Regions from separate parts of the Homo sapiens genome. Here region 2 is linked to region 1. Evidence: fine-mapped expression QTL. A gene starts in region 1. The other region holds a variant in brackets. All regions are shown on one strand. Distances are from middle to middle. Region 1 holds the start of XPNPEP1 (X-prolyl aminopeptidase 1). Region 2 overlaps XPNPEP1 (X-prolyl aminopeptidase 1).

Region 1 (4,384 bases):
GCATGGGGCAAAACAAGGAACAAGATGCTCAATCACACCTAGTGGATGAGACAAGGGTAAACTGGAACAAGTTCTAAGGTTGGGAAGTAAGCAATGTTGTCTTTGTCTACCCAGAATCCATCCCTCCTTTTGATGGGAACCTTGGTTTTCCTTTTGAGAATGTACCCTCTCCATTTCAGCCCAAGGGGTTCAAAGCAGTCTTATCCAAACACCTAACAGGCTCTGGGACCCAAAGCAGGTCAATCCCTCCCTCTGGCCATAATGATTGGTTCACAGATGAACATGAGAATTAAGGCAGCCCAGTGAGCATCAGATCAGGGACTTCTGCTCCATTAGGAAGGAGGGCTCAACTTCTCTGCTGGGGCTGTCAGCCTAGAACTGTCATAACCTGCCATAAGGAGAAAGTCTCCCTGAGAATGAAGCGGATACTGAATAAATCAGAGCCAAGAGATGATAAAGAGAAGTCTGAAGCCAATGTTGGTGGTGCTCCCGGATTCAGCCACACTAGAAGCCAGCTCAACCCCATTTTAGGTAAATCAATTTGAGTTCAGTTTCCATTACCGAAACTGAAAGAAGTGCTCACTTTTACAAGGAATGGCACTCAAATTCTACCAGTAGGGGAGGCGCCTGTGGAAAATGGCTTCCCCTCTCTCAGCCTTTCACTGGACTTTCCTTTGAGGTAAAAAAGACTCTACCAGCTGGTGTAGAAAAGACTCTTCTGCTCCTAAAAGGCTGTGAGTCTATAAATCTAGCACAGATCACCTTGGCCCCCTAAAGACCACCTGAGGCCTACAGCCTAACTCATCATTATCCACTTGCCTGACTCCATTTCCAGCACTTCACTTACAGGAAGCTCCTTCCAGATGGAAGTTCTCCACCCCTCCCACATACTTCCACAGGGTGGGTCTGGTTTTCTGCTCACCCTTAACAAGCTGTGGCAACGGCAAATCCAGGTCAAGGTAGGTTTGGGACCCCCCTACTCACAAACACAAGCAGGAGCCATGGTCTGTGTTCAGCAAGAAAGCCTGGCCATGCTGCAAAGTGAGTGCATTCATGTCTCAAGTGGTTAGCAGGTGGGTGACCCCTTGGGGATGGCCAGGGAGTCTGGCCTGTGGCCTCCATGAACTCTGAACACCTCTCTCCGTCTCCCACTTTGTCAGAGGCTCTGATAAGTACATCCTGGTTATGGCAGGGGAATAAACTAAAACATGTTTAACTTGAGGCCGGGAAATTATCTGTCTCACCCTCCTATGCCCAAGGAGAGCCCAGGGCAGGCTACTGGGGGGATTTTCCTGGAGATTATACCAAAATATTCCCTTACACAGCCTCTGAAACCATTTGGGTAGGGAGGGGCCCGCGACCGTCTATCCTTGTGGCGGTGACAGATCAGTAGAGTGAATTGCAGGAGTCAGTATTGTCGAGATTGTAACTTGAGGTTTAGATTCCTGGGTAACAGAAGCGAGGGCAAAGGCTCGCCCACCTCCCCGGACACGAAGAGGGGCCAACTTCCTCCAAGAACGGGGCCTTCCCGCGGGCCAGGAACTGTGACGGCCGCCGCCCCCTCAGGCCGAGTGCAGCAGTTCCGCGGGCATACGCGTCCAGGAACCAGACTCGGGCCGCCCCGTGCCCACCGACCCTCCGGAAACGAACCGGATCTCGCCCGGCCTCATGGACCCCTTCCCCCGGCTCCTGTTCCGGGGCTCCGGCGAGCGCGGCCCTCGCCAGACTGCGGCGGGCCGGGCTCCTCACCCGCGCGTCCCTGCCCGCCGAGGTGCAACACGCGCGGCCGCGCAGCGAGGGCTGCACGCTGCCCGGACGCCGGCTGCCGGCGGAGTGCCCTCACCTTACTCGCGGTGGCTTTCTGGAGGCTGCCATTCGGCGGTGACGTGCCCCAGCCCACGTCAGGGGAGCGCAGACCAGCTGATCACCCGCGGAAGGGCCGGCGCGAAGGAGGCGCGAGAGCCGGCGGGCGGGCGGGCGGGCTAGCGCCGGGTCGGCCACGCCCTCGCCCGTGGCGGGCGCTGGCGCCGCGGCCCCGCCCACACGCAGGCCCCGCCCACACTCCCGGACCTGGGGTTCGCGGCCGCAGCGCCTGCGGCCCAGAGCGGGGCCTGCCCTTCCACACCAGTCCGCATTGCCTCTCCCTGCAGCGAGCGGGGAAAGGACGCAGTGCTGCTGAGTGTCTTCATTTTTGTTCGTTTTTGTCGTCATTCCTCAAAGAGGAAAAAGGGCTTTGCCGAATAAAGGGGCTACTGTCCCAGGGATTTTCCGGCTTAATTTAGGAGGGCTGAGAAGAGAGGGACGTGGCCGGCTCCGGAAGAACCTCGACAGGGTCTTCGAGGCTTTGGAACAGGGTCTCAAGCTTTAGAAATGTCCCCAAAAGTATGTTCCCAGAGAGCTTCAAAATCCAGCTCTCCGCTCCGCTTGGATAGTAAATAGCCCCTTCAAACTTAACGTCCAAACGGAACTCCTGGAACTCCCAATGCACCGAAGCAAAGCAAAAACGTTCTCCACCAGTCTTCTTTGCCATCTCAATCAATGGCTACTCTATTCTTAAGAGGCAAAATTTAGGAATCCTCCCTGCCTCTTCTCTTTCACACCCCACATCTAATCTGCCAGCAAAATCTTGTTGGCCCTGCCTCCAAAATAGACCCCTAATCTGGCCGTGTCACACCACCTCCACCTCCTACCCTCTGATGTGCATCAGAGGGTTGTACCACCCCACCCGTGTGGTTACAGCAGCCCCCCAAATATCCCCTCACCATCCCGCACCTGCACAGTCCAGCCTGAACAAAGCCGCCAGACCAGTCCTTTGAAGCGTGACACCAGGTCACTTCTTTGCTCAGCACTTTCCATTAATTTCTCGTTTCACGCAGCATAAAAGCTCCATTTGATCTACCCCCAGCCACATTTCCTCCTGTTCTCACCTTCCTCACTCTTCTTCAGCTGAAATGGCCTCCTGGCTCTCCTTGAAAAAGCAGGGTACACTCATGTCCCAGGGCTTTTGGACTTGCTCATCCCCCAAATATTGAGGCTCCCTTCCTCATTTTCCTTCAAGTCTTCGTTCAAGTATCACCTACCCTGACCATCCTATTTAAATTTGTAAATCATTCCAATATTCCTAATCCGCCTTACCCTACTTCATTTTTTCCATAGCACTTACCACCTTTTAACAGGATTCTTTTAATGTACTTATGTGTACTGTATTCTTCCCCCTCTCCTGCCACCACCCACGCACACAACAAAACCATCAGTGCAGATTGTTTCTGTTTTGTTTAATGATGAACAATATCTAACATGTCATAAGTTCTCATTATATATTTTCTGCAGAAATGAATGTTTCAGAATGTGCACTCCTCAAAAGCAGGGATGGTGGCTCTCTTGTTCATTGTTATTTCCCTGGTGCTTAGAACAACACCTGGCACTAAATGAAAGTGACCACATTTTTTTAAAGGTGAATGGCACCTCCTCCTGCTTTGACCTTGGTGTAAGGCCTAATATACCTGTATCAGCTAGGTTCTGCTACCTGCAAGAACTCAAAGTCGTTATTGAATAAGCATTTAGGCAAGCCGAATTAGACTGTGTAGTTAAAGCATGAAAAAACTAAAGATGTGCTTCCTGGGAAAGCAGCACACATCTGTTGCATTTCCCCAAATTTATGAAGCCAAAAACAGAGAGATTGTAAATAAAATACTGGTTCCAGCCCACATCTGAAAGCTGGTGGGAAAAATCAAGTTATAAGAGAAAACGAGATAAGAGAGAGAGAGATAAGTGAAACTTAAGGGGGACAGGTATTTAATAATCACATTGCCTAAAAGAAAAGGAGTTGGCTCAGAATTTACGGCATCCAGCTTCAGGGGAGAGAGAGAAATACCTTGCATTCCCTGAGCTGGATTTGAGTTCCTGTTTGCAAGATAAAAAAAGGAACCCTTTCCCCTCTTGAAGTTTTTTTGTTTGTTTGTTTTTTGAGATGGAGTTTTGCTCTTTTTGCCCAGGCTGGAGTACAATGGCACAATCTCAGCTCACTGCAACCTCTGCCTCCCGGCTTCAAGCAATTCTCCTGCCTCAGCCTCCTAAGTAGGTGGGATTACAGGCATGCGCCACCACACCCGGCTAATTTTTTGTATTTAGTAGAGACGGAGTTTCACCATGTTGGTCAGGCTGGTCTTGAACTCCTTGGCCTCGACCTTCCAAAGTGCTGGGATTACAGGCATGACCCACTGTGCCCGGCCTCGCTCTTGAAGTTCTAACAAGAGAACCTCTGGAGAAGTTATAGCACTGAATTACCATGAGAGAATGAGAACACCAGGAGTTATATAGGTTCTTCTCCTGGCTCTACAGTCCTTGCATCCTCAAAGAAGTGGAACAGTCACACTGCCTGACA
Region 2 (4,384 bases), 54 kb before region 1:
AGAGGCGCTCAAGCACAGAGGAAAGCTAAGCAGGAAGTGGATGGACTTTCTCATCACCCACCTGTGAACTGGAACAGGCAGAAGAGGCTTCTAGCTGGGAGAATCCCATTCCACAGCTCCTGTGGAAGGGAAGGTCCTTAACCCCCAAAGACCCTTTCCTTTACAGTGTCAAGAACGAGGCCCAAGTGGGCGCCAGTGAGGAAATGTTCCTGCCTTGAGAGGCACTCAAAGGCCATTGGCTGCCTCAGATAACAAAATATTCTTATTCCGAGAGTAACCCACCGTGCTTACCCTGCCTTCGGCTCCCACCAGTCATTTGCTTTTCATTGGAACTTCTGACCCCTGCCTTGCTCTGGAATTTGTGTCCTCCTGGCTTCCAGCTTCCTGGTTTGGGAACTGTTTTGTCTGTCTAGTGCTAACAGTTCCTACCCCATTTCTGACCCTTGTTTCTGCTCTGACCTTGAACATCTGTGTGATTCTTCAGGCCTTTCTCATGTCCCCAGGACTGCCATCTGACCTGGCCTTACCAGTCCAGGGTCTGAAGGAGTTAAGACCCATAACCCTCTGAGCTGGGCAAGTAAGCACTGTTGTGCCCCAGGCTTTGTGAAGGGTTTCACTGCCCCAGAGTGACCACAGTAGTAACCGAGAAGGGCTGGTACTATCTTTCTCCTTGTCTGTGTGAAAACAGGACATACGATAATAGATTTTGCTTTCCATTTCCTTAATGTTTCATGTAACACAAGAAAACAATCTGGTATGTACAGTGGCCAAGAGGCCCCACCATCCATCTGGCTTTTTGTAGGGACACACATAGGCTCATATTTGCTAAACACGCCTCACTGCAGCTATGGAGGAATAGTACAGCCAAACAATGGCATACGAGTTCCACCCACAAACCCTACAGCCCCAGAATGGCTGCGGGAAACAGGACTATCTCCACCTGGAGGCCCAACAAATACAGGAAAAGCTCAGGAGTCCTCAGAAAACCTAGGGCTTTCAGACTCAACTGGCCTAGACCTCTAAATTTAAAAATTACAAAGTGAGACTGGATTAGAGAATTTAGGATTTAGAGGATGGATTAGAACTATTTAAGGTAGTCTCCACCTCCCCTAGTAACATGCCTGCCCACCAAGACTTCCCCATTACCTCTTTGTCTGTAAGAGAATCCACATCTATCATTTTGGTCTGAATTGGAACCAATGTTAGAGGTTCAAAGGTCAGGCTTCCCCGGTTATTAAAATTATACTGCGGGAGAAAGAAGAAAACAGATGCTTTTACTCCTCTTTACTATGCTGAAGCACCATGAGGTCATTCCACCAGCATGCCATCCCTCAGAGCCAGGGGTAACTGGGAGCCAAGAAGTGGTGAGCTGGTCACCACTTTTCACAGACACACAAGGAACCTGATGCCATTTTCCAAGAGCTCCTCCACTGGGCAAACAATGGCCTGTGCCATCAGGAAAGGCCAAACAAAGGGTGCTGAGGGGCTCCCAGCAACAGGTCCCAAGGCTAATGTCTACTGTGATAGGAAACAGGGGCAGGATATGGGGGTATCTGGGCTTAGGGGCATCTCTGGTTTTGGTTCTCCAGGATGCAGGGGTGTAAGTCCTCAAAATCATTTTTATAACAGTCAACTGTGTGGTCTGCCTTGACCCAGCCAGGCCCATCAGGCGACAACACATCTATCCACTGGAGCACACAAGAACATGTCGGGTTTCTGTTCATGGCAGCTTTTGGGAATAAGATGGGAGGTCACTTCCAAGAATAGTGACTTCCATGCCAAAGCAGAGAGCAGATCCCCGCAG[T/A]TAACCTCCTTGTAGACACAGGAAGCTACTTCCCTCCAATTGTTCAATTCCACCAATGGAGGAGGCACAAACAGGTCTTTTAGGTAAAGCCTAGAGCCTAAAACCCTGCAACCTTGGTAACACTGATGGGGGAAGAGGGTGAAACACCTGTCTTGTATTGCCTTTGAGGCTGACCCATGGATAACTCAGGGTTCCTCAACTTTACCTAATAAAAGTCACCTGGGGAGTGTGACAAAATTACAGCTTCCAGGCCCCCCACCCTGGAAATTCTAGGGTCTGGGAGGGGCCCTGGAAATTAGCGCCTTGAATAGGCACCCCTAGCAGAAGAGACAACAGGCCGCCTATAGTAAACTCAGAGCCCCAAATCATGTGAAGCAAGCATCAGCCTGAGGGTCTGTGAATCCCAGTTCTAGATCCCAGTTCATTAAGGATTTTCTTTCTGGCTTTGCAGGGAAGGAGTGTGGTTTCCAGGAAAGTCCCTGATATCTGGAGAAGAAGGCTCCATGTTGGCCCCAGAATGGCATACTCTTGGCTCCAAAGACATTAAGTCTTCATCTTCCCACACTAAGAAACAGGAAAATTTTTAAGCTTTGCGCAGTGGCAGTATTGTAGCCAATGAGGTCTATCCGAGGCGTGATTATTGCTAATAGAAACAGGAAAATTTTTTTAATAAATCCTCACCTTGGTCTTCACAGGAACCACAAGGACAACATTCTCAATGCGAATTCCAAAAGCCCCATCTTCATAGTACCCGGGCTCTAAAACAAACCAAATCCCAAAAATGAGAAGCAGCCCACGATGAAGATGTCTACAGAGAGAAACTTTCACTCCTTGGATGACTGCCCTACTCCAAAGGAGAAGAAACGGGTGAAGAGCCCACTCTATCTGGTGTAAGAGCCTAGAGATGCCACCTTCTCTCATATGGCCACTTTTTTATAGGCACTTGAGGTGCAGAAAGCTAGACTCTGAAGTCCCTGCACACTGGCTACAGGGTAAGGAGTAAAGTAACAGTGGATCCACTAAATAAATCATGGTTCACATCCGTAAGACACAATAATGAAGGCATTAAAATATATTTACAAAGACTTGGCAATGACCTGAGAAAAGGCAATGTATCAAGTAAGAAAGCAGAACATAAGACAAGATGCCCAGTAAGATCTCAATGATTTAAAAAAAAAATGCTATCTACATACCTGAAAGACCAAAAGCTAATACAGTAAAACACTAAGTCATGTTTCCCCTGAGTGGTTAGATTGCAAATGATTTTCATTTTCTTTTTACACAGTTCCCATCTCATTTTTTCTAAAATGAACATGTATCAGTTCTATAATCAGAAAAGTTTGTTGGAAGGGAAAAGTATTGCCAATTTACTTTAAACTAATTAAAAAATACAAAACAACGAATAGCTTTCAAAAAGGCTCAAGGATCCACGCATGCCCTCTATGTGAGGGACACTTACCATCAGTGACAATCATGCCTGCCTCCAAGGGCTCATCAGAGAATGTTTTGTAACTGATGCCGCAAGGACCCTCATGGACATTCAAAAAAGACCCAACACCATGTCCAGTCCCGTGCAAGTAATCTAGGCCTGAATCCCATAAAGCTGAACGGGCAAAGGAGTCAAGAAGGTGACCTGAAAGACATAAAGAGCCACTTAATTGTATTTGTACAGCGCTTTAGAGATTAAATTTATTATGTGTGGCTCCAGAACGTGAAACAGAAACCAATAGGTAAGTTACTGGAGGGTTCAGATTTCAGCACAGCACAAGGAAGAACTTTCTAACAATCAGAGCTCCTGAGAAACCATCAGAGCTCAGTCTGAAGCTAGGCGATCATCCATTCAGGATGCTGGTGAGCGGGGATAGACACCTACAGCACACAGAGGCCGTATCAGACATGGACGTTCCCTTGCCAGCTCTGCGACCCTAAGGTTTCAGAATTACAAAGATGAGACTCTAACCAGACTGCAAGCAGACAGGCAGGCATGACAGATGAGGAAACTGAGGCCTAGGGAGATGAGTACATGTCTAATCTACCCAAAAGCAAGGCAGCCCAGGTCTTGTCAATGCCCAGTCCAATGCTCCACCCACCAGGCCTCAAGCAAAGTAGTACATAGCTGAAGTCAGGGTCCCAGTAAAATAAATCCTAAGAATCCCGAAAGGAAGCACTGGCCCAGTACTAAAGGGCAGACAGGAGGCTGCACCAACTTCCACTCAGGCCCTGTGACCTTCATATCTGGTTTGTCCTCTCCTGGGAGCCATCCACATGTGTCATCCAATACCATAAGTGGTCAGGAGAATGGTGCACAGGGGGTACTGGGCCCAATCCTAACCCGGCTCCCTGAGGCCTCTGGGCTCAGTCAGTGGGTTATGGAGACTCACCCCATGAGCACCTGGCTGGGCCTGAAGTGGGATGGGGACCTCACAGTGAAGGAACGACATGTTCTTTCACTCAAACATAGACATATTTGATTCTCAAACAAGAAAAAGAGCCTGCCATGTGACAGAATGCACCACCTACCTTTGGTTCCAGTCGGGAAAACGGCTGCACTCACAGCTATGTGGCCCTTGAGGACATATG

The links. PIP is the estimated chance that this variant, and not a neighbour inherited with it, causes the effect.
Region 2: its variant is the best candidate, but not a certain one, in a credible set for the expression of XPNPEP1 in whole blood (INTERVAL, PIP 0.59).

What each region holds. Positions count from the first base shown.
Region 1 is chr10:109,921,559-109,925,942 of GRCh38, forward strand. XPNPEP1 (X-prolyl aminopeptidase 1) reads right to left here and starts at 1,953. Exons shown (of 21, transcript NM_020383.4): 1 at 1,844-1,953. The coding sequence starts at 1,875. RefSeq lists a silencer at 1,629-2,168.
Region 2 is chr10:109,867,468-109,871,851 of GRCh38, forward strand. XPNPEP1 (X-prolyl aminopeptidase 1) reads right to left here. Exons shown (of 21, transcript NM_020383.4): 17 at 4,325-4,384; 18 at 3,264-3,437; 19 at 2,486-2,562; 20 at 1,147-1,245. It also overlaps the pseudogene RNU4-5P. Among named protein-coding and RNA genes, the nearest start is that of XPNPEP1, 54 kb to the right of the region's middle. The variant T/A (reference allele first, on the strand shown) is at 1,805.